5 separate regions of the Homo sapiens genome follow, and all the other regions are linked to region 1. Evidence: fine-mapped expression QTL. A gene starts in region 1. Each other region holds a variant in brackets. All regions are shown on one strand. Distances are between the middles of the regions. Region 1 holds the start of GNPTAB (N-acetylglucosamine-1-phosphate transferase subunits alpha and beta). Region 2 overlaps GNPTAB (N-acetylglucosamine-1-phosphate transferase subunits alpha and beta). Region 3 overlaps SYCP3 (synaptonemal complex protein 3). Region 4 has its middle 12 kb from the start of ARL1. Region 5 overlaps GNPTAB (N-acetylglucosamine-1-phosphate transferase subunits alpha and beta).

Region 1 (5,189 bases):
TTTAGGTTGCCAGATAAAATATTTCCAGATAAATGGGATGCTACTGCATATTTTTTCCACTGTTCAGATGTGGAGAGTTTAAAATCATTTCCAGGCCAGGTGAGGTGGCTCCCAGCATGTTGGGAGGCCAAAGTGGGAGGATTGCTTGAGCCCAGAAGTTCAACACCAGCCTGGGCAACATAGTGAGACCCTGTCTCTACAAAAAATTTAAAAAAATAATTTCCACAACTTATGCATTTACATACTACTAATGTTCTTGAAGTGCATATTTAATCAGTTAATTCTCCTGCTGAAAACCTCATTGCTTTCAGAACAAGGCTAAATGTTAATTTTCTTAAATTTTTCCAACACTAAAAATGTCGCAGGCACTTGAGCATTTTCATGTGTTATTTTACATAACCCTCCTAACTGTATAAGGTAGCTACTACAGGTATATCATATTGCACCCACATTTATTTTATTTAAGTTCAACCATACTGCCTGAGGAGGGGGAAAAGGGAGTGAACAAGAGCAAGTTCTCTAGAAGAAAGGACTTAGACAATGCTCCTGACCTCCCTTGAGGCTGTCTAGTTGGAGCCTAAAGATAAAGGAAAAATTTAAGGGTAATTCATACTACAACAAAGCATACTTTTTAAGAAGGACAGGTTCTAGGCAAGGCTAGGACTAAAGTGAGGACAGTGAAGCACTTGTCTTGGGTGGAAAATCCGAGGGAACTCCAAAAAACTCACTAATCAAGAGGAATAATATTTTAATGCTATATATATATATTTTTTTTTTTTTTTTTATTAGATGGAGTTTCACTCTTGTTGCCCAGGCTGGAGTGCAATGGCACGATCTCGGCTGACCGCAACCTCTGCCTCCCGGGTTCAAGTGATTCTCCTGCCTCAGCTTCCTGAGTAGCTGGGATTACAGGCATGTGCCACCATGCCCTGCTAATTTTGTATTTTTAGTAGAGATGGGGTTTCTCCATGTTGGTCAGGCTGGTCTCAGACTCCTGACCTCAGGTGATCCACTCGCCTCAGCCTCCCAAAGTGCTGGGATTATAGGCGTGAGCCACCGTGCCCAGCCTAATGCAATATTTTTAAAAAATCAAAATTAATGGTTGGGCGCAGTGGCTCATGCTTGTAATCCTAGCACTTTGGGAGGTCAAGGCAGGTGAATCACTTGAGGTCAGGAGTTCAAGACCAGCCTGACCAAGATGCTGAAACCCCATCTCTACTAAAAATGCAAAAATTAGCCGGGGGTGGTGGCATGTGCCTGTAATCCCAGCTACTCAGGAGGCTGAGTCAGGAGAATTGCTTGAAGCCAGGAGGCGGATGTTGCAGTGAGCTGAGATCACGCCACTGCAACCCAGCCTGGGCAACAGAGCAAGACTCTGTCTCAAAAAAAAAAAAAAAACCCAAAAAACAAAAAAAACAAAAAACATTACTGAAGAATATCCATGAAAAGCAAAACACCCAAACTTTATGTTTTATTTTACGTTTTAAATTTTTTTTTTATTTTAATAGGAACAGGGTCTGTTACCCAGGCTGGTCTCAAACTTCTGGGCTCCCAGACTCCTGGGCTCAAGCTATCCTCCCACATTGACCTCCCAAAGTATTGGGATTACATGCATGAGCCACCACACCCAGCCCCGATATCAAAACTATAAACAAAGACAGAATCTCACTCCAAACTTGCATGACTCATTTCACAGTACCTTCCCCTAATCTTGGCCCTGTTCTACAGCCTAAGTACCTGGTTCAAATCTCAATTCTGTCATTTACTATTTGTGTGATGTTAGATAGTTACTTTTTTTCATCACAGTTTCTTGATCTGTAGAATGGGGATAATAATGGTATCTCCATTATAAGATTATTGTGAGGATTAGATGAGCTGGGCACATGGCAGATGCTACATAAATGTTGGCCATTATCCTGAGAGTCCTGTTGAGTGGCAGATGTTTTTATATCTGTTACCATGCTTTTTTACCCCTTCTGATTAAGTCCTCAGATCTGTTATCATGCTTGAAAAGACCTCAGAACTATATGTGTCTTGTACAACTGCAATAATCTTTTGCCATGTACATATAGCATATATCAATCATCTTTTTTAAAAGAAGGATTAAAAGAAGTGACTGCAAAGTGTAAAAAATCTTGCCTTGGATTGGAGTGAAGCTAACCCCTTTTGCAAGTCTGTTAATTCCACCTGACCATCAAACTGAGGGTGCGAATTTGAGTATTTCCTGAAGCTGGTTCCCAAGATATTTTTAAAAATGCTTTGAATGATGGCAACATTAGATAAGTGTATTGTTTCCCAGGGTGACTAGGAAAAAAATCTTATTGACTAGGGTGCATTGGGATTAAGAAAAAGATCTCCCTTTCGTAAATCAGAGGCACCAAGGAAAGGATCTCGTGGGAAAAACCTGCTGTCAAAGTCGGATTACCTGGCCACCCCTGAGCTGGTTCCCCTCCAGTTCATCGCATGATTTCTATCATAACAACTCTTGTATTTAGTGGTTTACATGTTTATCTCCCCCACTAGACTCTCTGAGAACAGTAGCCAGGTCTAGTTCATTTTTGAATACCTGACACCAAGCACTATGCCACCTAACAGGCACAAATTACATATTTAACGACTAAATGAATGAACGAAATTCGGTTTTGGCAGATTTAACCCAAAGGTTTCCTCTTTCAAACAATATAGTTGGGGGTTGGAGGAAAGGAGCCACATACAGCATCTCCTTTTAGCACTCTGCAGAGAATGCTAAGTGCAGAGAAGGTTTTATGCACAAAAATATTCATGGCATTATAGTACCGTCTATGGCACAGTCTCGACGCAGGGGGCAGTTTTCTCTTGGTCGCCTGCCCAACCGGGTAAGTGGATCCCAGCTCAGCTCCGCCCCTCCCAGCCCAGCCCTCAGGGCCCGCTGCGCAAGCGCAGGTGGGGAGGGCGCGCACCTTCCCTATGCCCCTCCGTCCTCCAGGTGGCGCTGGAGACCCCGCCGCCGCCGCAGCCGCCTCTCGCCCGGCCAGACCCGGGCGGCGCCGGCCGCCTCGCCGGCCGCAGGTCCGCCTCCGCCGCGCCGAGGGCGTGGGCTCCCGGCTCCCGGAAGCGGCGGCCGCGGCGCGGAGCCGAGCGGGCGTCCGTCGCCGGAGCTGCAATGAGCGGCGCCCGGAGGCTGTGACCTGCGCGCGGCGGCCCGACCGGGGCCCCTGAATGGCGGCTCGCTGAGGCGGCGGCGGCGGCGGCGGCGGCTCAGGCTCCTCGGGGCGTGGCGTGGCGGTGAAGGGGTGATGCTGTTCAAGCTCCTGCAGAGACAGACCTATACCTGCCTGTCCCACAGGTATGGGCTCTACGTGTGCTTCTTGGGCGTCGTTGTCACCATCGTCTCCGCCTTCCAGTTCGGAGAGGTGAGTAGCGGCGCCGCAGCCTGGACCGGGCGCCTCGACCCTGCACTGCCCTCGCCGTGCCCCGCGATGCCCCGATACAGTATGTATTTTTTCATTATTAGAGACGGGGTTTTGCCATGTTGCCCAGGCTGGTCTCGAACTCCTGAGCTCAGGCGATCGCCCTGTCTCGGCGTCCCCGAGTGCTGGGATTACAGGCGTGAGCCACCGCTCCCGGCCAAATACAGTATTCTTTATCATAAACGTGTGCAGAGACTATGAGCAAGTCAGAACTGGAAAAAGGCATGTATGTGATTTTAGATATTGCTCCCTCGCCCACCGTTTTTTAAAAATAGAGACGGAGGTCTCCCTATGTTGCCCAGGTTGGTCTGGAAGTCCTGGGCTCAAGTGATCCTCCCTTCTTGGCTTTCTAAAGTGCTGGGGTTACAGGCATGAGCTACCGCACCTGGCCCAAGAAAGCCACTTTTAGCAACGGGGAGGAAAGCTGTATTTTTAAGTGGTTTGAAATCTGTTCCTTAGTTTTAGTTTTTTTCTTTTTCTTTTTTTTTTTTTTTTTTGGTAGGAGGTTACAAAAGGTTTTAAAATTTAACAGAGTAGTTTTTAGAAATGCCACAGTATACATTTGCTTGAAGTCTTTACCCATGCTGGATTGTAAGCTCCGTAAGAGAAGGTGCTGTCTGTAAATACTGTAACCCTGGCCCAAGCACAGTGCCAGGTACTGCCAGAGAATGCAGTGCAAGTGTTTGTTTAATGGCTAAATTATATGGCATGAATTCTGAGCATGTACTTTTTTAGTAGTTCTTGGTTCTAGAGGCTGGGAAAAAATGTCTTACCATAAGGGTGAGAAAGCTCCAGATTTGTAAGTGTGAAATATGTACTTAATATTATAGTACTTGCTCGTCTTTGTTTCATGTGTTGCAACTTAATGTATCTGTGTGTAGTTAGGTGCCTTATTGCTTTTGTGTGATTTTTTTGGCCTTGATTAATTTTGAGTTAACTGTTTATTAAGTCCCATGCAGTGTGAAGATGACTTAAAGGCATCAGGTGTTAGAATTCTTCATTTTATTTTATTTTTTTGAGACAGAGTCTTGCTCTGTTGCCCAGGCTGGAATGCAGTGGCTCCATCTCGGCTCATTGCAACCTCTACCTCTCAGGTTCAAGAAATTCTCCTACCTCAGCCTCCTGAGTAGCTGGGACTACAGGCGCGTACCACCATGCACAGCTAATTTTTGTATTTTTAGTAGAGATGGAGTTTCACTATGTTGGCCAGGCTGGTCTCAAACTTCTGACCTCAAGTGATCTGCCTGCCTTGGCCTCCCAAAGTGTTGGGATTACAGGTGTAAGCCACCGCACCTGGCCCGAATTTTTCATTTTATATCCTTTTCTTTTTGCTTTCATTCCATGCTTGGCTGTTTACCAAAAGAGAGACATTTTGTTGCAGTCCTGAAATGGCCACAGATCATAAGGTTTGGAACAGACAAGAGAAATGAGAGGCAGACAGTGCCAACAGGTGTCATGAGAGGTGAAGGCAGCTGGCCTGTGGTTAACTTGTAAGGCATAATGGAAAAGAGGAGCTGCATGATTAGGCAGATTTGGCCTTGATTGCTGACTCCAGTTGATAATGATCATAATAATAGCTAATACTTATATTGGTCTTAACAGGTATCAGGCACTCTCTTAATTGCTTTACATATGTTAACTGATTTAATCCTCACAACATCACCCCTGTGGGATAGGTGCTATTATTATAACCATTTTATAGGTGATGAAATGGATGCATTTGCATTAGAATCCAGCTAA
Region 2 (5,767 bases), 60 kb after region 1:
ATATATGGAGGCAGTTGCCCACAATTGCCCAAGCCACAAACTCCAGCCTTAGGCACAAACTACAGCTGCTCTTCCCACACTACCTTCTCTCTTCTGACAAAAGTAATGATGATGTCCAGGATTGGGGTGCCACCTAGTGGCTGTCAGAGGGTACTTCCCCACCCTTTTTACAGTGGCAGAAAATCTTTCTCATACATATAAATATTACCTTAACCTCATTAATCTTCATCTCTTTCCGAATTATTGTATAGTTACTATAGACAAACCTCTTCTTGCTCTTTTATGCATATATAATTAGAAACCAACCCTAGGCACTAAAAAGAATAGTTTTAGTGATATACCTTCTTATCAAACAAAGAGCCAACACAAGTTATGAAATTAAACTAGACACACCCCTTCTTCGAGGTTACGCCAAGCCAGTGCCTGGGCCTGAAACTGGCCTGCAGCCCCTCAGCTTCGCCCACTGCCTTCCGACCCTGGACCTTCGCAAAGTGAACGAGCTTCGGGACTTCGTGAAAATGTATAAGCAGGATCCGAGCATTCTGCATACCAAGGAAATGTGCTTTCTGAGGGAGCAGGTGGAGAGCATGGGGGGTGAAGTACCATGTGCTACTCAGAAAGCTATTATAAATCAGAAGAAAATATCAAGGAATTAAAAACAGGTAGTAAGAAGGTGGAGGAAAACATAAGCACAGACGAACTATCAAGTGAGGAAAGTGATCTAGAAATTGATAACGAAGCTGTGATTGAACCAGACACTGATTCCCCTCAAGAAATGGGAGATGGAGGTCAGGCCTGGTGGCTTACGCCTGTAATCCCAGCACTTTGGGAGGCCGAGGCGGGCAGATTGTATGTCAGGAGACCAGCCTGGCCAATGTGATGAAATCCTGCCTCTACTAAAAATACAAAAAATATTAGCTGGGCATGGTGGTGCTTGCCTGTAATCCCAGCTACTCGGGAGTCTGAGGCAGGAGAATCACTTGAACCCGGGAGATGGAGGTTGCAGTGAGCCGAGATCACATCACTGCACTCCAGCCTGCACGACAGAGTCAGACTCCGTCTCAAAAAATAGAAATAAAAATAAGTAAATAAATTGTTCTAGAATAGTGACTTTTTCTCTCCAGGGAGCCCTCAGAAATGCTTTGGGGGTGCTGTGAGAGGGAGGAAAGGGACAGGAAAGGCCAGAGGGTAGACAGGGACCCAGGCAGACTACTAATCCCCCTGTGTGGCCTGCCTCCCAGCACCCGGCACATATGCTGAGGCAAGTTGGTGACTCAGTGAGAACCAACTTAGTGAGTACTAAATATGTGCCAGGCACTCACTAAGTAAAAGAGGTGAAAGTGGTGAGTCAGGAAGACAGTTACATGCATCTGCAGGTGCTCACACATGCACCTGCACCTAATCTGTGAGAAGAGTTAATGGCCTACATCATAAGGGGAAAAGATATAAATGAAATTTCTAACTCTCACCTCTGGTGTTCTGGACTACATACGCTCAGGAAACTGCTTAGAAAATGAGCTAAGAATAGTCATGCAGCAAATAGAAGAGCTCAGAATAAGCTCATAATAAAATTTGTGTTTGCTTTGTTTTATAGATTGAGAAAGAAGACCGTAAGCTCTTTTAGAAGCACTAGTTCAGCAGAAGGATTTTACTGTCCTACATTTGTGGTTTTCAGGCCTCTCCCCTTTTCCTGAGTGATGAAAGCCTCTTCATAGGAAGTTGTGTGATACAGAGTCAGAACAGAAAACAGATAAAGAGTGGTGTGGACTTTCGTAGGGGTGGCAAAGCCTGTTTGTGGAACTTGATGTTTGTGATGTTCACGCTTAGATTTATGATTGCCCCAAAAGCTTTGCCCCAAAAGGTAGTTTTCCCATGGAAGCACTTCAGGCAGTCCTGCCGAAGGTGCTCCTCCCAGGCACGTGGCACAAAAGCTGTTCAGACACCCCACTAGCAGATGTACTTGTCACCAATTCCAGCAAGGTTAATTACATTGCAGATTTTTTGCCCAATATAAGCAGATTGGTAATATTCTAGAAGAAAAGTCACAGAACTGTTGGCCAGCAGGTGTACTTGCAAAGAAGTCAAAAATCATTTGAGCCAACATTGAAAAATTGGGGAGATTTCATACAACAGTTGGGGATTCTTGCCTCTCAGGAGATCTGGCAGCACTTGGTGCCATTGAGTGGTTGCAGCTCTCAGATGGCTCTGAGGTGTCCAGTTTGCCACTGCCTTTACCATTCCTTCTTGTTTTTAGACGCCTATTTTTTTAACATTCATTTGGGAAATGCATCTGGTCTGTGTAGGTCTTTTTGTTGTGTTTTGATATTGTCTTA[C/T]CATTTCAAGATTAAAGATCAGGCCAGTTGCAGTGGCTCACGCCTGTAATCCCAGCACTTTGGGAGGCCAAGGCAGGTGGATCACCTGAGGTCAGGAGTTGGAGACCAGCGTGGCCAACATGGTGAAACCCTGTCTCTACTAAAAGTACAAAAGTTTGCCGGGCGTGATGATGCAGTCCTGTAGTCCCAGCTACTCAGGAGGCTGAGGCAGGAGAATCGCTTGAACCCGGGAGGCGGAGGTTGAGGTGAGCAGAGATCGTGCCACTGCGCTCCAGCCTGGCGACAGAGCGAGACTGTGTCTCAAAAAAAAAAAAAAAAGGAAAGATTAAAGAGCAGAGTGGGAATTTAAAGGTGCTTCATCCTTGAGATTCAGTCTTTTCATGTGTAATCCTCTTGTTATTTGATAGTTGCAGTTGTATTCAGAGGCCAGTGTAGCGCTTCTAAAACTGAATAACCCCAAGGATTTTCAAGAATTGAATAAGCAAACTAAGAAGAACATGACCATTGATGGAAAAGAACTGACCATAAGTCCTGCATATTTATTATGGGATCTGAGCGCCATCAGCCAGGTAAGGGATGCACAGAAGCTTTTACAGCCCAAATCAAAGGTTAAGATGTTAAAAATGTGTAAGTTACTATATTAGAAGAGGGAAGGGGACTTACAGAGAGGTGAGTTGATTGGAATTTTTCTAATTTTTCAGTCACTGCCATTGGTTTGGTATTAACTGAAGTCACCTAGAATCAGATCCAAGAACCTTCTTCATAAAGTGTGTTATAGAAATGCTGTCTCTTTGAATTTTGGGTTTAAAAATATATATACTGAATCTTTTGCATTTTTTGTAATGTTTAAAATTAGGACTCCATCTTTAAAAGTCTGCCAGAGCACCTTGAGAGCAGACGGGCAGAAGGAAAGGACAAAGAGGAGGAGGTATGACTTAAGGGGTATTTCACATCTTCATATGCCAAGTGTTTTTCTCAGTCTAAGCAGGATGAAGACATCTCTGCCAGTCGTTTTGAAGATAACGAAGAACTGAGGTACTCATTGCGATCTATCGAGAGGCATGCACCATGGGTTCGGAATATTTTCATTGTCACCAACGGGCAGATTCCATCCTGGCTGAACCTTGACAATCCTCGAGTGACAATAGTAACACACCAGGTACAGGACTTTCTAAAAATTACAAGACTGTGATTTCTAATTCTGCTCTTTTAGTGTGGTACAGGGATTTCCATAATTTCATTCCCTTTACCCTTCTACCTCCATTTCTTCCTTTCTCTAGCTCTTCATTGCCTTCCCTTCCTTCCTTTCAAAAACTAAACCAAACCCAAACAGCTCTCATTCACTCTCTTTTTTTGTTTGTTGTTGTTAAAAGGATGTTTTTCGAAATTTGAGCCACTTGCCTACCTTTAGTTCACCTGCTATTGAAAGTCACATTCATCGCATCGAAGGGCTGTCCCAGAAGTTTATTTACCTAAATGATGATGTCATGTTTGGGAAGGATGTCTGGCCAGATGATTTTTACAGTCACTCCAAAGGCCAGAAGGTGAGTGCCTAAGAGGAGGGGGGTTGTCTAGCGTGGAAGTCACTTAGCAAATCAGAAAATGAGTGCACATACTACTGTAGTCAAATATCAGGCCAGACATGGTGGCTCACACCTGTAATCCCAGTACTTTGGGAGGCGGAGGTGGGTGGATCACTTGACCACCTAGGGGTTTGAGACCAGCTTGGGAAGCATAGTGAGACCCCTGTCTTTACAAAAAGTAAAATAATTATCTGGGCCCGGTGGAATACTCATGTAGTCCCAGCTGCTTGGGTGTTGGGGGGCCGTGGGGGGAGTAGGGGGTCACTGGCCAAGATGGGAAGATTGCTTTAGCCTGAATGTTGAGGCTGCAGTGAGCTGTGATTGTGCCACTGCACCCCAGCTTGGGTGACAGAGTGAGAACCGGATCTTGAAAAATAAAAAAATATATATAGATATATGAGATCAAATAATCATTTTTGAGTGCTAAGCTCAGAAATCAGCAATTAAGAAGTAAGAACACTACAGTTAGAAATTTGCTTTCCTGCATTCTTAGACACCCAGGACCCACACTTTTTCCCAACCATCTCAATTTTCTACTACGATAGCAGAAAAAGCAAAATCACTGTGAAACAGACAATCATGGTTAGAATATCAGCAAAATGGCCAAAATAGAAAGTTAACTCAAGTTAGTGCTTAAAGCTATAGATGTAATTTCATTTAAGGTAGCCTGTTGCACTCTAACTTTGTGAGAGGTGGGATGGAGAAGTGGTTAAGAGTACAGACTTAGGGGCCAACTCTTCAGGATGACCTTGGGCAGTGGCTCTACCTCTGTGTTTTCTGGCATAGTGAGGAAAGTACAAATACCCTTGTAGCGTTGTTAGAAGGGTTCAGTGATAAGTTAGAGACTTATCACCGTAAACTTAGAAGTTATAAAACTCTGCAACTGTAAGTGCTAATAACACAAAACTACTTTGTCTGTAATTGTTTATGCTACCCAACCAGGCCCATTCTCCTGTTCCCCTATTGAGTTGTCTCCTCTGTATCAGACTGTAGGGCTCAAAGTTGAGCTTGTGGCTTAACAAGGGGACAAACAAGATCAATGACTGTGTGGTGCTTTTCCTGCTGACAGGTGTGCCTTGGTGCTGAGGAGTGTGAGCAAAGGAGGCTTAAATCAGATAGGATAGGGAAGAAAGCCCATCTGAATTGACATGTACTGAGAAGAACAAGTAAGAATTAGTTTAGGTTAAAAAAGACATTCCAATTAGAATATGCAAAGGCACAGAGATTTTTAAAGAGGAGTGTATTTTTTTTCAATGATTTTAAATTTGAAAAACCATGTACCCCATCACTAATTCTGAGAGCAGGTGAATGCACAGCTCAGAATGCTATGCCAGTTAATTTATCACAGGGCCTTAAGCTTGAAGAGAGAGGATATTGTCTCTCAGCCTTGAGACAAGATTATGCACAAATACACTAATGAGCTACTGATAGTTACAGAAAAGCAGTGACTGTGCATACTTCCCACCAGCTTTGACATGCTTTGGTACTTGCAGTCAAGTCTGGCATGGTGCTACTTTATTTCATAGTAGATTATCAAAGCATGTTATGAGAGACTAATCCATGAGTTGAATCCTTGTCTGCTTTCCTTGAGTAATGGAAAAAAAGTAAATACGCTCAGTAAGAACGGTCAACGCAGCAGGATCTAAACAATGACTGTAGGTACAGGCAAACTTAAAGCACTTGTGAGTGTGAACGCTGAGCCCTTTGAAAATTTTAATCTTTCTAGAGACTTAATTTCTTTTTATAAAGGGAATCTTAACTCAAGAATAAAATGTATCAGAAGCCAGAAGTCATTTTATTTTCTCTTTGGTTTTATCGTAGGTTTATTTGACATGGCCTGTGCCAAACTGT
Region 3 (6,168 bases), 97 kb after region 1:
GGGTAACGTGTTCAAAATAATTTTTGTTTCTTAGATAAAGCACTTCAAGAAAAGTTGCTAACAAATAATATATGTAAAATACTTGGCATCTGGTATTTCTTCCAAAACAAGCATGGTATGTTGTGGATCTTCTAAAGTGTTTAAAATGTAATTTCTTTCCAGGGGTGAAGTGCAGAATATGCTGGAAGGAGTTGGAGGTAGGTTTTAGGAGATACTTGTATTTAAAGAAAATTGTTTTAAGCCATATAATTTGTATAATAACAAATGTTAATAATGGACTATAAGACTGTTATTTAATGCCTTGTTCTCACATAGAAGATTCTGCATAAGTATTTGTGATTTAGCATCACAGATTTTCATAGTTAATCTTTTCCATGATGTTAAGAGTGAATGGTATTTTATACATATGTGAATTTAATGGACTATGGAATTTTAGAAGAAAAATGCACAGGAAAAGTCTTTACCCTTCTTTGTATTCACAGACTAAGTGATACACACACACACACACACACACACACACACACATATACATACATACATATATTTGTATATAAGTTTTTCATTTTTTCAGTTTAGTTATTTTCTGACTTCCTATGCTATTTTCTTTAGGGAGGACAGTGTAAATTAAGCCTCTAAAATAACTCTTTTTACATTAATAAACTATGTAGTTGATACTAAAGACAATTTTGCTAGATAGAGTTTTATAATTAGGTTCAAAAATTCTCAAGTTTTAAATAATATATTAAGTATCAATAATATGAGCTTTGTTAGAGATTAGTTATCTTAAAAAAGAGTTAATATTTAGCTCCTCTAAATGGATTGTTCATACAGTCAACTCTTTTTTGAAACCTTTGCTCTGTCCGGTGGTGAAACAGTGCTTGTTTTATAAATTTATTATAGATAATACTGAAAGTATAAAATATTTATGTAATAGTGCAGCTACAGCATGATTACTGAAAGATACCTATTTATGGTAGATCCATAAGATAAAGGCTTATGTTTAGCAAAGCATTATTTGAAGTAGTAAACATTTTATGAAATGCAGTTCTTATGGGTAAAAATGCCCAATAAAGAGCTCCACAAAAGCATTTAAAACTGATCTTATTCACCTATTTCTCATTGAAAAATAAAGTGATCTTAATTTATCTAGAAATTTACTTAAACTAAGATTTTTTTCTGTCCTTGGTCTTTGTCTCTTAGTAAAAAATGTATTTAAAAGTATCATTGATGGCCAGGCACAGGGGCTCACACCTGTAATTCCAGCACTTTGGAAGGCCAAGGCAGGAGGATTGCTTGAGGCCAGGAGTTCAAGACCAGCTTGGTCAACATAGTGAGACCCCCGTGTCTTTAAAAAAAAAAAAATATATATATATATATATATAAAATTGATTATATTAAAAATAGTTTTCTTCTTTAACTATTTTTATCCTTTTTGGATTCTTTCTAATAGAGTACTTTTACATATTTTCTATAATGAGTTCTAACAATAATTCATTGAAATGTGTCCTTTTAATTGGGGTGTATTTTATAAATTTAGATAAATTTAGCCTTTTTAAAAATTTTTTTTTATTTTTGAGACGGAGTCTCACTCTGTCCCCAGGCTGGAGTGCAGTGGTGCAATCTCAGCTCACTGCAACCTCTGCCTCCCGGGTTCAAGCGATTCTCCTGCCTCAGTCTGCCAAGTAGTTGTGACTACAGGTGTGCGCCACCACGCCCAGCTAATTTTTGTATTTTTAGTAGAGACAGGCTTTCACCACGTTGGTCAGGATGGTCTCGATCTTTTGACCTTGTGATCTGCCTGCCTCAGACTCCCAAAGTGCTGGGATTACAGGTGTGAGCCACCGCGTCTGGCCTACATTTAGCCTTTATTAACAGTGTTTTCTCATGGGGAAATTTAAAGTCTGTCCTTGACACATTGTTTTGTTTATTAGCTCTTTTTTATTGTTCCTAAGTTAAAAAATTATCTCCAGTTAGGAAAATCAGAATTTGGGTGCTAGTAGCTGAGAGTTTTCTCAGAAAAAAAAAGTAAGCAAACAATTCTGCATTTTGAAATTATGCCTATTTCTAAATTTAAGTTTAAATGTCTTTCCAATATTGTTGAACCAACCTTACCCATATTTACTTGAATATGTGGGAACAAAATACTTTTTTCAACATTAAATTTTAATGAATTTTTATTTTCAATCTAGTTGACATTAACAAGGCTCTTCTTGCCAAGAGAAAGAGACTAGAAATGTATACCAAGGCTTCTCTCAAAACTAGTAACCAGAAAATTGAACATGTTTGGAAAACACAACAAGATCAAAGGTAAGGTGGTTGCTTTTTTTTTAGAGCCACATTTCTTAGTATTTACTGGTATAAATTACTTATGAAAAATACTATTCTAGGATCGGCACGGTGGCTCATGCCAGTAATCCCAGCACTTTGGGAGGCCAAGGCAGGCAGATCACTTGAGGTCAGGAGTTAGAGACCAGCCTGGCCAACATGGTGAAACTCCATCTCTACTAAAAATACAAAAATTAACCAGGCGTGCTCGCTTGAACCTAGGAGGCAGAGGTTACAGTGAGCCAAGGTCGTGACACTGCACTCTAGCCTGGGCAACAGAGTGAGACTCTGTCAAAAAAAACAAGAAAAGAAAAATACTATTCTAGTTACTGGGGTTTCTAGTGAAAATGTATTTGGCTTGATTTTTCTCTAAGTATGATAGTCCTGTAGCCCTATAACCTCACTCCTTCATAGAATTGACATTATTTCCTAAAAAATCAATAAAGATCACTTTTTTCCTTTTAGGTAACAAGTGAGGTTATAAAAGTAATTTCGTTTTTTGTTGTTGTTTTATGAGATGGGGGTCTCATTATGTTGCCCAGGCTGGTCTTGAACTCCTAGGCTCAAGCGATCCTCTCACCTCAGCCTCCCAAGTGCTGGGATTATAGGCATGAACCACCATGCCCAGCCTAAAAGTAATTTATGTTCATTCTAGAAATACACTAGTTGAATAAAAGGTAAATGTCATAAAAACCGTTAGTCTTATGATGGTGAATTATGTTCAACAATGTAGAAGAACACCAATCTTGTATCGTATATAATTTGTATGTTTTAGCTGACTTAACTCTTCTTTTGTATAAAATCTTTTGTTAAGCCAAAATAGGGAAAAAAATTAAGCGAACTATTTCTATTTAGAAATCTTATAGGATAAATACAATCACCTTATTTAATGTATTTGTTATATCAGAATCTATATTCAATAGGAAAAAAATGAAAAATAAACTGCTTAGAGATCAGATGAATTTCTTTTTG[A/C]AAATTTATATATACAATAAAACTTCCTTAGTTTTCAAGAGCTAAAGCTTGTGACAGGGCTTTTCTTCTATTAGTTTGTTAGAAAAAAAATACTTCTGGAATCAGTGTAAATCATAATTTTACTTTTTGGTTTCCCATCAGAAGACTTAAGCTGCAGGTATTTCCTTTTCTTATATAGTATAACTGTGTCAACTCAGTTTTGTTTTAAATTCTTTTTATATTGGTATGAAATATGACAATAATTCATCATTATGTTTTACAGGCAGAAGCTTAACCAAGAATATTCTCAGCAGTTTCTGACTTTGTTTCAGCAGTGGGATTTAGATATGCAGAAAGCTGAGGAACAAGAAGAAAAAATACTTGTTGGTATCATGATTAGGTTTATAATCAACCAAGTCTCAAGTAGGAATGGACAACCTAGCCTTTTATTGTGACCAGTGGAACTGAGCCAGGTTTCATTAACCATTGCTGGCCATGTGTTTTAAACCTACTGAACTGTAAACCACAGACGTATAGGCACATACCATACTCATAAAAGGCATTTATATTGTTTGGGGTTCCTGCATTTCCAAGTGACAGAAATTTGTCAAAGTACAAAAGAAGGATCATTGGTTTATGTAAAAGAAGTCGGGGCAGTTTAGCTTCAGGCATAGCCAGATGGGAACAGGGAGGGGGTTGCTCATGTAGTGTCATCTGGGTTCTGTCATCAGTACTTAGTAAGGTGTCTTGATGTAGTAAGCAAGATAGTTTTTACAGTCCTAGGCTTATTACAAGTTTAGTAACCCCAGTGGACTGAGAAAATCTTTCTCAATAGCTCTGGCAAAAAATTCCTCTGGGAAAATATGACTGATGGGAGTTTGGATCATTTGCCCATTCTTGAACCAATCATTGTATAGTTAGCCCTCTGTATATAAGGGTTCCGCATCTGTGTATTCAACCAATCGTGGATGAAAAATATTTGGAAAAGGCTGGGCGTGGTGGTGGTTCATGCCTGTAATCCCAGCACTTTGGGAGGCCGAGGCGGGTGGATCACCTGAGGTTGGGAGTTTGAGACCAGCCTGACCAATATGGTGAAAACCCATCTCTACTAGAAATACAAAAATTAGCCGGGCTGTGATGGCGTGTGCCTATAATCCAAGTTACTCAGGAGGCTGAGGCGGGAGAATCACTTGAACCTGGGAGGCGGAGGCTGCAGTGAGCCGAGATTGTGCCACTGCACTCCAGCCTGGGTGACAGAGGGAGACCCTTTCTTGAAAAAAAAAAAAAAAGAAAAAAGAAAAAATGCAAATTGGAAAAATAATCCAGTGTTACAACTATACAGCATTTACATTGTGTTAGGTATTATAAGAGATCTAGAAATGATTTAAAGTATGTGGAAGGATGTGCATTGGTTATATGCAAATATGATGCCATTTTGTAACAGGAACTCGAGCATCTGCACATTTTGGTCTCCTGAGGGGTTGGGTGTCCTGGAACTGGTCCCCCCAGGATACCTAAGGATGTCTGTAGTCAGAACATTGTTGACTTTTAATGGCCAGACTTGTGTTACCTGCAAGTGAGGATATTGGGGGTAGGGATGACAGTGTAAAATAGATAGGATGGATTTGTGGCACTGATAGATTATTGAGCTGTAGTACTAAAAAGAGTAAGTTAGAATGGTAAAGAAGTAGTGGTTAAATACTAGGATAGACAGAGAAACAGTATGTATAATGGTTAGAGCCTGGATGCCAGCAACAATACTGTTTTGGATCAAATTCTTGTTTGAGCAATTGTAGCTGTGAAACCATGGACAGATTATGCCTCAGTTTACTCATCTATGAAAGGGGAATGCTGAGTATCTATCTCTTAGAAAGTTTACCATTACTAATACTGTGTAGTGGTTAGAATTATTAGTAATGACAAAATCTAGGGTGGGAGTATGTAAGTCAATGGCTAAAGTAGGGTAGAGGCCAAAATCATTGAGAAACAGGTCACGAAACGGAAAACCATTATTATTGGAAGGATCATCTGTGTGGACATTGAAATCACCAAGAATTAAGACATGACTTGATTATTGTTAAAATTTCCCATTCAGCAACTGGTAGAATTAATATATTGTTACATATTAGTGGTGAACATAAATTATCTAAATGTGGTCATAATAGTTGTTAAAATTTTAAAAGCATTGATTTTTAACACTTTCTTTTAAGTTTAATGTAGAATTATTTTTTCTAAATTTAAAATTTTACCCAAATTGTTATTACACAGTTTTTTTTCTTTTATATTTGTAGAATATGTTTCGACAGCAACAAAAGATTCTTCAACAATCTAGAATTGTTCAGAGCCAGAGATTGAAAACAATTAAACAGTTATATGAGCAGTTCATAAAGGTTTGTTGTATGTGGTAACACAATACATCGTTATAAAACATAATATATTTATGGAAGTAGAAGATAATTCTTTCTAAGTTTATGGGAAAAAACATTTTAGACTTTAACTACTTTTCCATTTTGAATTCATTGTTTCTGATTTAAGTGATAAATATATTTTTACTTGAGGATTCAAATGGTTTTGTTGGGATTATTCAAGACAGGAAATGGTAAATTGGGAATTTTACTTAGAAATATACTTATCATGCATAAAATCCATACTTTAATAACACTTCAGTCATAGTTCTCTGTTTAAGTGAAAATAGACTCTATAATAATCATTTTTAGGTTGTATTTTACTTGTTTTTTTATCCCCAGTGTTTGTTAAATAGAAAGTACCCAAATTATTGAATTCTCTTGTTTTCAAATGTATTATAGAAGTATTTTATGGCACATTTGCTTTTAGAATTATTACAGTGACCAAAAATGAATTTATATCCAACATAAAATAACAGATATAATA
Region 4 (6,168 bases), 410 kb after region 1:
AGGTGTGCAGGCTCCCAGAAGTCTACTGTGAATTAACAGAATGTCAGGTTAAGAACCATTTGTCTCAACAAAATAAGTAAGTTTAACCAAAGAACTGTAATACCTGTTACTGAAAACTCCAAAACATTGAAAAAAATTTATATATGTATTTGTATCTCACTCTGTCGTCCAGGCTGGAGTGTGATGGCACAATCTCAGCTCACTGCAACCTCTGCCTCCTGGGTTCAAGTAATTCTCTTGCCTCAGCCTCCCGAGTAGCTGAGACTACAGACACACACCACCACGCCGGCTAATTTTAGTATTTTTAGTAGAGACGGGGTTTCGCCATGTTGGCCAGGCTGAACTTGAAATCCTGGCCTCAGGTGATCCACCCACCTCGGCCTCCCAAAGTGTTGGGATTACAGGCATGAGCCACCACTCCTGGCCTATATAATATTGTTTTTTATGGTTTTTTTTTTTTTTTTTTTTCAGACAAGGTCTCTCTCTGTTTCCCATGCTGGAGTGCAGTGGTGTGATCACAGCTCACTGCAACCTTGACTTTCTGAACTCAATCGATCCTCTCACCTCAGCCTTCTGAGTAGCTAGGATTACAGGTGTGTGCCACCATGCCCAGCTAATTTTTGTAATTTTTTTTTTTTTTTTTTTGAGAGGGAGTCTCACTCTGTCGCCCAGGCTGGAGTGCCATGGCATGATCTCGGCTCACTACAACCACCTTCTCCCAAGTTCAAGCGATTATCCCACCTCAGCCTCTCAAGTATCTGGGACTACAGGCGCATGCAACCACGCCCGGCTAATTTTTGTATTTTTAGTAGAGATGGGGTTTCACTATGTTGGCCAGGCTGGTCTCGAACTCCTGACTTCGTGATCCGCCTGCCTTGGCCTCCCAAAATGCTGGGATTATAGGCGTGAGCCACCGCGCCCAGCCTAATTTTTTATTTTTTTTAAATAGTTATGAGGTTTTACCATGTTGCCCAGGCTGGTCTCAAACTCCTGGGTTTGGCCTACAAAACCCAGGCATTGGCCTCCCAAAATGCTGGGATTACCGGCACAAACTGCTGTGCCTGGCCCATAAATGTTGTTAAGATGACAGCACTTCCTGTTATGGTTTGAACGTAGGTATCCCTCCAAAATTCATATGTTGGAATTCAACACGGTACCCTCCTCTTGACCTTATCTATGGGGGATATGTTTCAAGACTCCCAGTGGATGCCTGAAACTGCAGATAGTATCAAACTGTATATGACAATGCTCTGGAGCGCCCAGGACTAGATCTCCTCACTGCTGATTACTAAGAGTACTGCATCAGAGTACAAAGCATGGGAGTCAGAAAATGAGTAATATGGAAGGGAGGGTTGGAAAAAGCAAAGGCTTCTTTTTGGCATATCAGAATGGCCAGGATCACTACTCTTGCATTTTGGGGTGATTTTCTTTTCTTTTTTTTTTCTTTTGTGACGGAGTTTCGCTCTTATCGTACAGGCTGGAGTACAATGGTGCAATCTTAGCTCACTACAACCACTGCCTCCTGGGTTCAGGTGATTCTCCTGCCTCTGCCTCCCTAGTAGCTGGGATTACAGGCATGCGCCACCATACGCGGCTTATTTATTTATTTATTTATTTATTTTTGTGAGATAGAGTGTTGCTCTGTTGCTCAGGCTGGAATGCGGGGCACGATCTCGGCTCACTGGAACCTCCGCCTCCGGGGTTCAAGTGATTCTCCTGACTCAGCCTCCTGAGTAAACTGAGATTACAGGCACACACCACCATGCCCAGCTAATTTTTGTATTTTTAGTAGAGTCGGGGTTTCATCAGGTTGACCAGGCTGGTCTTGAACTCCTGACCTCATGATCTGCCACCTCAGCCTCCCAAAGTGCTGGGATTACAGGCATGAGCCACCGCGTCCCGCTAATTTTGTATTTTTAGTAGAGACGGGGTTTCACCACATTGGTCAGGCTGTTCTCAAACTCCTGACCTCAGGTGATCCACCTGAAGTGTTGGGATTACAGGCATGAGCCACCGCGCCCAGCCTGGGGTGATTATTAAGCAAAACAAGAGTTGCTTGAACACAAGCGCTGTAATACTGTGACAGTTGATTTGATAACTGAGATGGCTACTAAGTGACTAGCAGGTGGGTAGCATATACCGCAGGGATATGCTGAACAAAGGGATAAAATTAACATCCAGGACAGCACAGAGCAGGATGGTGTGAGATTTTAACATGCTACGCAGAATAGCAAGAAATTTAAAACTTATGAATTATTTCTGGAATTTTCAATTTAATATTTTTGGACCGAGGTGGACCATGGGTAAGTGAAACCTCGAAAAGTTCACCACAGATAAGGGGAAACTACTCTATTTATGTGACAGTGTTAAGAGGTAGGACTTCTATTGAAGGGATTAATTCACAAGGGCTCTGACCTCATGTATGGATTAGTACTATTTTTAAAAAAGTTGAAGGGGGCCGAG[C/T]GTGGTGGCTCATGCCTGTAATCCCAGCACTTTGGGAGGCCGAGGCAGGTGGATCACGAGGTCAGGAGGTCGAGACCATCCTGGCCAACATGGTGAAACCCCGTCCCTACTAAAAATACAAAAATTAGCCAGGTGTGGTGGCACGTGCTGTAGTCCCAGCTACTTGGGAGGCTGAGGCAGGAGAATCGCTTGAACCTGGGAGGCGGAGGTTGCAGTGAGCCGAGATCTTGCCATTGCACTCCAGCCTGCTGACAGAGTGAGACTCCATCTCAAAAAAAAAGGTAGAAAGGAGTGCTCCATGCCTTTTGTCCTTCAACCATATGAGAAAGGACCAAGAGGCGCCATCTTGGAAGCAGATAGCAATCCTTACCAAGCACCAAATCTGCTAGTGTGTTGATCTTGGACTTCCCAGCTCTAGAACAACGATAAATAAATTTCTATTGTTTATAAATTACTCAGTCTAAGGTAGTTTGTTATAGCAGCAGGAAAAAGCTAAGACATTTCCCAAATTAATCTACAGATTCAATGTAATCCCTATAAAAATTCCAACTGCCTTTTTTTTTTTTTGCAGAAATGAATAAACTGATTCTAAAATTCACATGGAAATGGAAGGGACCCAGAATAGCCAAGACAAAGTAGGAAATGAACAAAGTTGGAGGACTCACACTTCCTAATTTTAAAACCTACTACAAAGCTACTATAATCAACAGCTACTTTGGAAGGCTAAGGTGGGAGGATCACTCAAGGCCAGGAGTTTAAGACCAGTCTGGGCGACATAGTGAGGCTCCATCTCTGCAAAAAATTAAAAAATTAGCCAGGGATAGTGTTGCACACTCATAGTCCTTGCTATTCAGGAGACTGAGGCAGGGGGATTGCTTGAGTCCAGGAGTTTGAGGCTATAGTGAGCTATGATTGCACCATCATACTCCAATCTGGGCAACAGAGTAATGCTCTGTCTCAAAATTAAAAAAAAAAAAATCAACACGGTGTGTGTGGTACTGGCACAAAGATAAACATATACATCAATGGACTAGAATTGATAATTCAGAGGTTGGGCACAGTAGCTCATGCCTGTAATCCCAGCACTTTGGGAGGCCAAGGTGGGTGGATCACTTGAGGCCAGGAGTTTGAGATCAGCCTGGCCAACATGGTGAAAACCCGTTTCTACTAAAAATACAAAAATTAGCCAGGCATGGTTGTGTGCACCTGTAATGCCACCTACTTGGGAGGCTGAGGCATGAGAATCACTTGAACCCAGGAGGTGAAAGTTGCAGTGAGCCAAGATTGTGTCCCTGTACTCCAGCCTGGGCAACAGAGGGAGACTCTGTCTCAGAAAAAAAAAAAAAAAGAAAATTCAGAAATAAACTTGTAATGTAGTAATGTGAAATGAATACTGACTTTTTTTTTGTAAAATTAGTTAAAATTATTTAAAAAAAGAAAAAAGATGGGCCAAGTGTGGTGGCTCATCTCTGCAATGCCAGCAGCACTTTGGGAGGCCAAGGCAGGCAGATCACTTGAGCTCAGAAGTTTAAGACCAGCCTTGGCAACATGGTGAAACCCTGTCTCTACTAAAAATTCAAAAATTATCTGGGTGTGGTGGTGCACACCTGCAGTTCCAGCTACTCAGAAGCCTAGGTGGGAGGATCACTTGAGCCCGGGTGGCAGAGGTTGTAGTGAGCTGAGATTATGCCACTGCACTTCAGCCTAAGTAACAGAGCAAGACCCCATCTCAAAAGAAAAAAAAAAAAAGGGAAAAAAGAAAAAAAGAGGCTGGGTGCAGTGGCTCACACCTGTAATCCCAGCACTTTGGGAGTCCAAGGTGGGCAGATCACCTGAGGTCAGGAGCTCAAGACCAGCTTGGCCAACATGGTGAAACCCTGTCTCTACTAAACATACAAAAAATCAGCCAGGCGTGGTGGCAGGTGCCTGTAATCTCAGCTACTTGGGAGGAGGAGGCAGGAGAATCACTTGAACCTGGGAGGTGGAGGTTGTGGTGAGTCGAGTTTGCACCACTGCATTCCAGCTTGGGCAACAGAGTGAGACTCCATCTCAAAAAAAAAAAAAAAATTAGCCTGGCGTGGTGGCACACACATGTAGTCCCAGCTACTTGGGAGGCTGAGGCAGGAGAATCGATTGAGCCCAGGAGGTGGAAGTTGCAGTGAGTGGAGACTGCGCCACTACACTTCAGCCTGGGCGACAGAGAGAGACTCTGTCTCAAAAAAAAAAGAAAAGAAAAAAGAAATTTATATTACCTATGATCAATTGATTTTTGACAAGGTGTGAAGACCATTTAATGGAGAAAGTCTACTTTCTTCAACAAAAGGTGCCAGGACAACTGGATATTCACATGGCAGGGTTTGTTTTGTTTTGTTTTGTTTTTTTGAGACAGTCTTTCTCTGTCACACAGGCAGGAGTGCAGTGGTGCAATCTTGGCTTACTGAAACCTCCACCTCCCAAGTTCAAGTGATTCTCCTGCTTCAGCCTCCCGAGTAGATGGGATTACAAGCATGCAACACCACACCTGGCTAATTTTTGTATTTTTAGTAGAGACAGGTTTCACCATGTTGGCCAGGCTGGTTTCAAACTCCTGGCCTCAAGCGATCTGCCTGCCTTGCCCTCCCAAAGTACTGGGATTACAGGCATGAGCCACCCAAGCCTGGCCAAGCAAATGAATTTGGATCCATATTTCATACGATTTGCAAAAATCAACCCAAAATAGAAAAAGATCAAAATATAAGAGCTAAAACAATAAAACTCCTAGAAGAAAATACAACTGTAAATCTTTGTGAGCTTGGGTTAGGCAATGGTTTCTCAGATATGATACCAAAAGCACAAGCTACAAAAGAAAAAAGTAGATTTTTTTTTTTTTGAGAGTCTTGCTCTGTTGCCCAGGCTGGAGTGCAGTGGCACAATCTTGGCTCGCTGCAACCTCCACCTCCTGGGCTCAAGGGATTCTCCTGCCTCAGCTTCCTGGGTAACTGGGATTACAGGTGTGTACCACCACACCTGGCTAATTTTTGTATTTTTAGTAGAGACGGGGTTTCGCAATGTTGGCCAGGCTGGTCTTGAACTCCTGACCTCAGGTGGTTCACCTATCTCGGCCTTTCAAAGTGCTAGGATTGCAGGCATGGGCCACCACACCCAGCTGAAAAAAAAAATAGATAACTTGTATGTCTTAGTCCATTTTGTGTTGTTATAAAAGAATATCGTAGACTGAGTAATTTATAAAGAAGAAAAAATTACTTCTCACAATTCTGGAGGCTGGAAAGTCCAACATCAAGATGCCTGCATCCTGTGAGGGCCTTCTTGCTCTGTCATCCCATGGCAGAAGGTGGAAGGGCAAGAGAGCATTCTTGAGAGAAAAGGCAGAACTCGCTTTCATAACAAACTTACTCTAGTGATAACAAACCCACTCCTTTGATAACAACATGAATTCATTCATGAGGATAAAGCCCTCATGATCTAATCACCTCATAAATGTCCCGCTTCTCAGTAGTGTGGCATTGGGGATCATGTTTCCAACACATGAACTTTGGAGGACACATTCAAACCAGAGCACTGGACTTCAACAAAATTAAAAACTTTTGGCCAGGCGCGGTGGCTCGAGCCTGTAATCCCAGCATTTTGGGAGGCCGAGACAGGTGGATCATGAGGTCAGGAGATCGAGACCATCCTGGCTAACACGGTGAAACCCTGTCTCTACTA
Region 5 (6,168 bases), 27 kb after region 1:
GAGGAGGAGTCCACACTTGTCTTGTTCCTGGTTTTAGGAGGAAAGCATGTAGTTTCTCATCACTAAGTATGATATTAGGTGAAACTGTTTTTGTGGATGCTCTATCAAACTGAGGAAGTTCTCCTGTATTCCTAGTTTGCTGAACATTTTTATCATAAATTAATGTTGGATTGTCAAATGCTTTTTCTGCATCTATTGGTATCGTCATACAATTTTTCTTCTTTAGCTTGTTGATGTGAAGGATTTTATGAATTGATTTTTGGTTGTTAAACCAGGCTTGTATACCTGGGATGAATCCCAGTTGGTTGTGGTAAATAATTCTTTTTATATATTGTTGGATTTGATTTGATAATATTTTACTGAGGGTTTTCGCATCTGTGTTCATGAGAGATAGTGGTTTATAAGTTTCCTTTCTTGTAATGTCTTTGCCTTGTTTTGGTATTAGGGTAGTTTTGGCCTCATAGAATGAATTAGGAAATGTTCTCTCTGCTTCCATTTTCTGAAAGAGATTGTAGAGAAGTGGTATCATTTTTTTTTTCCTTAAGTGTTTGGTAAAATTCACCAGTGAAGCCATCTGGGTCTGGGGCTTTCTATTTTGGAAGGTTATTAATTATTGATTCAAATTTTTTTATAGATATAGCCCTATTCAGATGACCTCTCTCGTTTTTTGAGTTTTTGGATCATGTGTTTCAAGGAGTTGGTCCATTTCATCCAAATTATAAAGTCTGTGGAGACAGAGTTGTTCATAATGCTCCTTAATTTTTTAGGGGGGAAGGTATTGTAGTGATTTACTTTTCTTTTAAATTATTGTGGTTAAACATATATAACATAAAATTTGCCATTTTAGCTATTTTTAATTATATAACTCAGTGGCATTAGTTACATATACAAAGTTGTGCAATCATCACCACTGACTATTTCCCAAACTTTTTCATCGCCCCAAACAGGAACTTTGTAACCATTAAATTCCTCAGTCATCTCTTCCTTTAGCTCCTGGTTGCCTCTAATCTACTTTCTGTTTCTATGGATTTGCCTGTTCTAGATATTTTATATAATGGAATCATACAATATTTGTGTTTTTGTTTCTTGTTGTTATTTTGGCAGTTTTGGCTTGTTTGTCTGTGTTTACATGGGGAAAGAAAAATTGTAGCAGCCTGTTCCACCATTTTGCTGATGTCTAGCTCCAGACTAATAGTTTTGATTGTTGCTTTTTTTATATAATGTTTTATCAAACACTTTATCCCTTGACTACTTTGTAATGCTCCACAAAGGAAGAAACTTTGTTTTGGTCATTGCTATGTCCTCAGAATCTAGAATGATGCCACATAATATTTATTGACTGAGAAAATTAAGTTACTATGTTTTAAACGATTGTTTGAAAATGTGATTTTTTAATAGCTTTATCATATTTATATGAATGTACCATAATTACTCAATTTCCTGTTTAATTTTTAAATCATGTTTAATGATCTAAACATTAGATATTTCGTTTTTATCGGTAATAATGGTGATTATCGTACAGAAGCCTTTGGGTGGATCTATGATAATTTCCTCGGCATATGTTTCTTGTAGTGGAATTAACCAGATCAAAAGGCATGAACATTTATTTGTTTGTTTCTTTGGTACACACTGCCAATTGCTCCTCAAGAAAGGAGCAATTTTTTTAAATGGCCTAGCAGCTATTTTTTAAAAAAATAACATTCTTGACCTGGCTCAGGCCTGAATCCCAGCATTTTGGGAGGCAGAAGCAGGCAGATCGCATGAGCCCAGGAGTTTGAGACTAACCTGGGCAATGTGGTGAAACCCCATCTTGACAAAAAAATCCAAAAATTAGCCAGACGTAGTGATGTGCACCTGTAGTCGCAGCTACGCAGGAGGCTGAGATGGGAGGATTGCCTGAGCCCTAGGCTCAGTACATCAAGGCTGCAGTGAACCTTGATGACGCCACTGCACTCCAGCCTGGGTGACAAAGCAAGACCCTGTCTCAAAACAAAAACAAAAACATTCTTTTCACCTTTTATGACTTTTTAGCATTTCAAATTCATTTTTTAAAAGTCCTCTTCTTGGTGTATTTTAAAAATATTTTTAGGTAACAGTGTGAAATAAAATTCACTTGTTAGTGGAGGTAAATACATTAAGTTTCACAAACAGATATTGTGCAAAACTTCATTTCAGTAAACTTTTTTATGACAATTTTGCAAAAATAAAATTTGAAAATCTTAATTTGACTAGTTTGGCTTCTGGTTTACTAATTATACTAAAAGTATATACCAAGTTAAACCATTTTTTGTTCATATGTTGGTAATTTTTTTTTCACATGATATATTTTAATTATTTGCATCATATTTGTCTCCCCAGTAGTCTGTGAGCCCCTTGTGGGTTGTAATAAGTTCAGTGTTGTATCATAATTTTAATACCTTATACATCCTATAGTACTTTGTAGTTGTCAGAATATTTTATCAGCTCACTTGAATTTTCTAACAACCCCTTAGGGGATAAGATAGTATTATTTAAATTTTACAGTTGAAATTTAGGGTTAAGTTGACTTGTCTAAAATCACAAAACTGGAGCTTAGGTCCAGTTGTTCTGACTTGCCACCTTGTGTATTTTTGTGACAGTCTTTAAGGTTTGAATAGCTGCAGCACTAAACAAACTTAGTGCCGTGACCAAAATCTGTATTTCTATTTGGCCCATTATGGTGACCACTAACTGCATGTGGCTACTGAGTGCTTGAAATGTGGCTAGGTGATTAAGGTAGTGAATTTCTTATATTACTTAGTTTACGTTTTAAATAATGACTTGTGGCCACATACCATATTGGACAGTGCAGGTCTACCCTCATAGGTAGAATAACTATTTGCCAGGACATTATAACAAGAACTCAAACATTGGCTGCAGAGTAGGGCACTGGATTCAAAGTTCTTCCTGTAGAATTCGGTGATTCTGAAAACTCTGAGCAATAAAACAAACAACATAGATATATTCAGAAAGTCGGTTTGAATACTTTTTGAAAGTATTTTTGGTAGTTCGTTGGTTCTTTTTTTTTTTCTCTTTCTCTCTTTTCCTTTTAGCCAAGTGTGATTGCTAAGGGTTCTTTTTGTTTTCTTTTAGATATGACTTTTATATAGTAGAGTGCATTGTCAAAGCACAAAGCAATACTTTTTTTGTTTTGTTTTTTTGAGACAGTCTCACTCTGTCACCCAGGCTGTAGTGCAGTGATGCTGATCTTGGTTCACCGCAACCTCCGGCTCCTGGGCTCAAGCAATTCTCCTGCCAGTGAGTGCTACCAGGCTTGGCTAACTTTAAAAATTTTTTTTTTTTAAATAGAGACAAGGTCTTACTATATTGCCCAGACTGGTCTTGAACTTCCAGGCTCAAGCGATCCTCCCACCTCGGCCTCCCAAAGTACTGGGATTACAGGCACGAGCCACCATGCCTAG[A/C]CAGTATTCTTAATTCTGACTTCTAATACAATTTTCTTCCCTACTCCCCAACTGGCAAACAAATCTTTCTTTTTTCTCTACTCCTTTATTTCCATAAAAATCTCAGCTCTCTCTCCGTGGAAAAATATGTCATGATTATTCCTTTTGTCTAACAGTGTTTATTATATTTTAATCTGTACTCATTTAAAAGCTACACAGTAGTCCTACATCATTTCATGCAAATAAATGTTTAATCCTTAACAGGAATGTCAGCTCCTTGAGGACAGAGCCCTGATTTCCATTTTGTCTTCCTTAAAAAATCTGTTATGTTGTGTGTCTATTGCGGTAGAGAATCCAAAGAGGGTAGCCATGGTCTAGAAAAATGTCTGAGTTTAATTAGTGTTTGACTAAATAGTGGTCATCCATCTTCGGTTTGAATCATTTCCTTTAATTTATGTGAAGAGAAGAAATCATTCCTGTGTTAATAACCATTGAACTCCTAATTTTTTAAAGTTGTGCTTTATTGCATTAAGCCACTTTGCATCAGGAAAATGGGTGTCTTTAATCGAATGTGATTAGAAATGCTGCTGGCAATCAGCAGATTTTACTTCCTGGTTAATATCATAGGAGGAGGAGGTTTAGTAGAAAAGATAAAGCTTAAAATATCTTTAATATATCTTAGTCTTTCTTTTAGTGCCTCCATGCAAAACAAATTTTGTTTTCAGAAACTAAGAAGACTTTTTGTAATCTAGGAACATGGTACATTTATCTTTTCTTTTTCCCTTGTTGGAGGGAAGACAAGGTTAGAGGGACCTTGATTCTGAGGCAGCTTCTAAGGCCTCTTGGCATGTTAAAGTGCCAGTCTTTGGGGTATCACTTTCTGAGTCTACTTTCTGGACTTTTGAGACTTTTTTTTTTAAACTCAGCCTAATTCCCTGGAGATTCATTAAAGTTGATGAGAGATTCCATCTTTTTCAGCACTCTTTTCGAGTCCTGGCTTCTTACAGAAGTGGCATAGCCCAGGAGGTCTCCTCATGGTGTTATGTCCGGGAGTCTCCATCTGCCGTAACTGGAGATTAAGGATTTTAGTGGTTTTCTTTTTAGTATTGTCCTCAAGGGTGCTGGCAAGCTGATTTGCCAAATTAACTAGATCAGAGGTAGGCACAGTTTCCCATTCTGTTCGGGCCCTTTTGACCAGCTGGGAGAGTTCTTGAGAAAGGCTGTTCACTAACATGGAATAAAAGGCTACTTGAGTAGATTCAACATTTTCTTTAAATACAGCCTGGAGCCTACTGTAATAGTTGTACATTAGGTTCTTTCTTGGGCACAGGCCTGGAGGTTTTTCCAGTCTAAGGCTTTAGGAAGAGCCTCGAGAACAGACTTGTGGAGTGTTTTTTTTTCCTTCTATGCCTTTGACTCTATCCATAGTCTTTAGGGGTGTTTTTGTCTAAATCCCCCTCAGGATCATGGCAGTGAGCCTTGACCATCCAGTGTTGTGCCTGACCTTCACTGACAAGAATGTGAACCACCTACTGTGGGTCAGAAAAACCTGGCTGATAACCCTAAGTTACTATGTCCAATTAATCAGCAAATTGGTGAGGGTCCCCAGTAACCTCTGGAAGTTCCCTGGCAATGGCACGAAGTTCAGCCTTGCTCCAAAGAACAAAAGAAATTTGGGGTCTAGAGGAATTGTCAATAAGTTTAATTTTCATTTCTTTCTTTCTTCTTTCCTTTTTCTTTTTTTCTTTTCTTTTCTTTTTTTTTTTTTTTTTTAAGAGACAGGGTCTTGCTCTGTCATCCAGGCTTGAGTGTACTGGTACAATCATGGCTCACTTCAGCCTCCAACTCTTGGGCTAAAGTGATCCTCCCACCTTACCCTCTCAAGTAGCTGGGACTACAGGCATGCACCATGCCCGGCGAATTGATTTGTTTTTGTTTGTTTGGTTGTTCTGAGACAGGATCTCAGTTTGTTGCCCAGGCTGGCCATGAACTCCTGACTTCAAGCCATCCTCCAGCCTTGGCCTCCTGAGTAGCTGGACTCCAGGTGTGCGCCACCATGCCTGGCTAATTAAAAAAAATTTTTTCTTTTTTTTGAAGAGACAAGGTCTTACTATGTTGCCCCAGCTGGTCTCGAATGCCCGACTTCAATCGATCCTCCCTTCTTGGCCTTGCAAAGTGCTGGAATTACAGACATGAGCCACCACACTCAGGCTAGTTTAACCAAATTGTTTTATTTTTATTTTTTTCCTTCATACAGCCTCCTTTAACTTTAAAGGGACAGATTTTGGCGGGCCAGAGAAAGAGAGGAGAATAGAGAAGAAAGAAGGAAGGGGAAGTCTCATCTGTTCCAGAGAGGAAGGAGTTTGGGTCCTTAAGGCCTTGCTCTTTTTTAAATTTTTTTCCAGTTTTTTTTTTTTTTTTTTTTTTTTTTTTGAGACAGGGTCTCTTTCTGTCACCCAGGCTAGAGTGCAGTGGCACAGTAAATGCTCACTGCAACTTCCACCTCCTAGGCTCAAGCGATTCTGCCGCTTCAGCCTCCCAGGTAGCTGAGACTACAGGCACATCCCACCACACCCGGCTAATTTTTTGGAGTTGTAGAGACAGGGTTTTGCCGTGTTGCCTATGCTGGTCTCGAACTCCTGGGCTCAAGTGATCCACCCACCTCTGCCTCCCAAAGTGCTAGGATTAAAGGTATGAGCAACTATGCCTGGCCTTTTTTTTTTTTTTTTTTTTTTTTTTTTGAGACAGG

Evidence for each region.
Region 2: its variant is fine-mapped to the expression of GNPTAB in blood mononuclear cells (TOPMed, PIP 0.93).
Region 3: its variant is fine-mapped to the expression of GNPTAB in whole blood (INTERVAL, PIP 0.96).
Region 4: its variant is fine-mapped to the expression of GNPTAB in lung (TOPMed, PIP above 0.99).
Region 5: its variant is fine-mapped to the expression of GNPTAB in spinal cord (GTEx, PIP 0.92).

What each region holds. Positions count from the first base shown.
Region 1 is chr12:101,828,762-101,833,950 of GRCh38, reverse strand. GNPTAB (N-acetylglucosamine-1-phosphate transferase subunits alpha and beta) reads left to right here and starts at 2,992. Exons shown (of 21, transcript NM_024312.5): 1 at 2,992-3,392. The coding sequence starts at 3,276. RefSeq lists silencers at 2,810-3,209, 3,566-3,860.
Region 2 is chr12:101,768,131-101,773,897 of GRCh38, reverse strand. It overlaps GNPTAB (N-acetylglucosamine-1-phosphate transferase subunits alpha and beta), which reads left to right. Exons shown (of 21, transcript NM_024312.5): 8 at 2,741-2,902; 9 at 3,313-3,492; 10 at 3,707-3,877; 11 at 5,738-5,767. It also overlaps the pseudogene ST13P22. Among named protein-coding and RNA genes, the nearest start is that of SYCP3, 32 kb to the right of the region's middle. The variant C/T (reference allele first, on the strand shown) is at 2,334.
Region 3 is chr12:101,731,066-101,737,233 of GRCh38, reverse strand. SYCP3 (synaptonemal complex protein 3) reads left to right here. Exons shown (of 9, transcript NM_001177949.2): 3 at 1-2; 4 at 163-197; 5 at 2,190-2,307; 6 at 3,560-3,659; 7 at 5,568-5,666. Among named protein-coding and RNA genes, the nearest start is that of SYCP3, 5.3 kb to the left of the region's middle. The variant A/C (reference allele first, on the strand shown) is at 3,298.
Region 4 is chr12:101,416,628-101,422,795 of GRCh38, reverse strand. No RefSeq gene overlaps it. Among named protein-coding and RNA genes, the nearest start is that of ARL1, 12 kb to the right of the region's middle. The variant C/T (reference allele first, on the strand shown) is at 2,464.
Region 5 is chr12:101,801,224-101,807,391 of GRCh38, reverse strand. The region is part of intron 1 of GNPTAB (N-acetylglucosamine-1-phosphate transferase subunits alpha and beta); the gene reads left to right. Among named protein-coding and RNA genes, the nearest start is that of GNPTAB, 27 kb to the left of the region's middle. The variant A/C (reference allele first, on the strand shown) is at 3,441.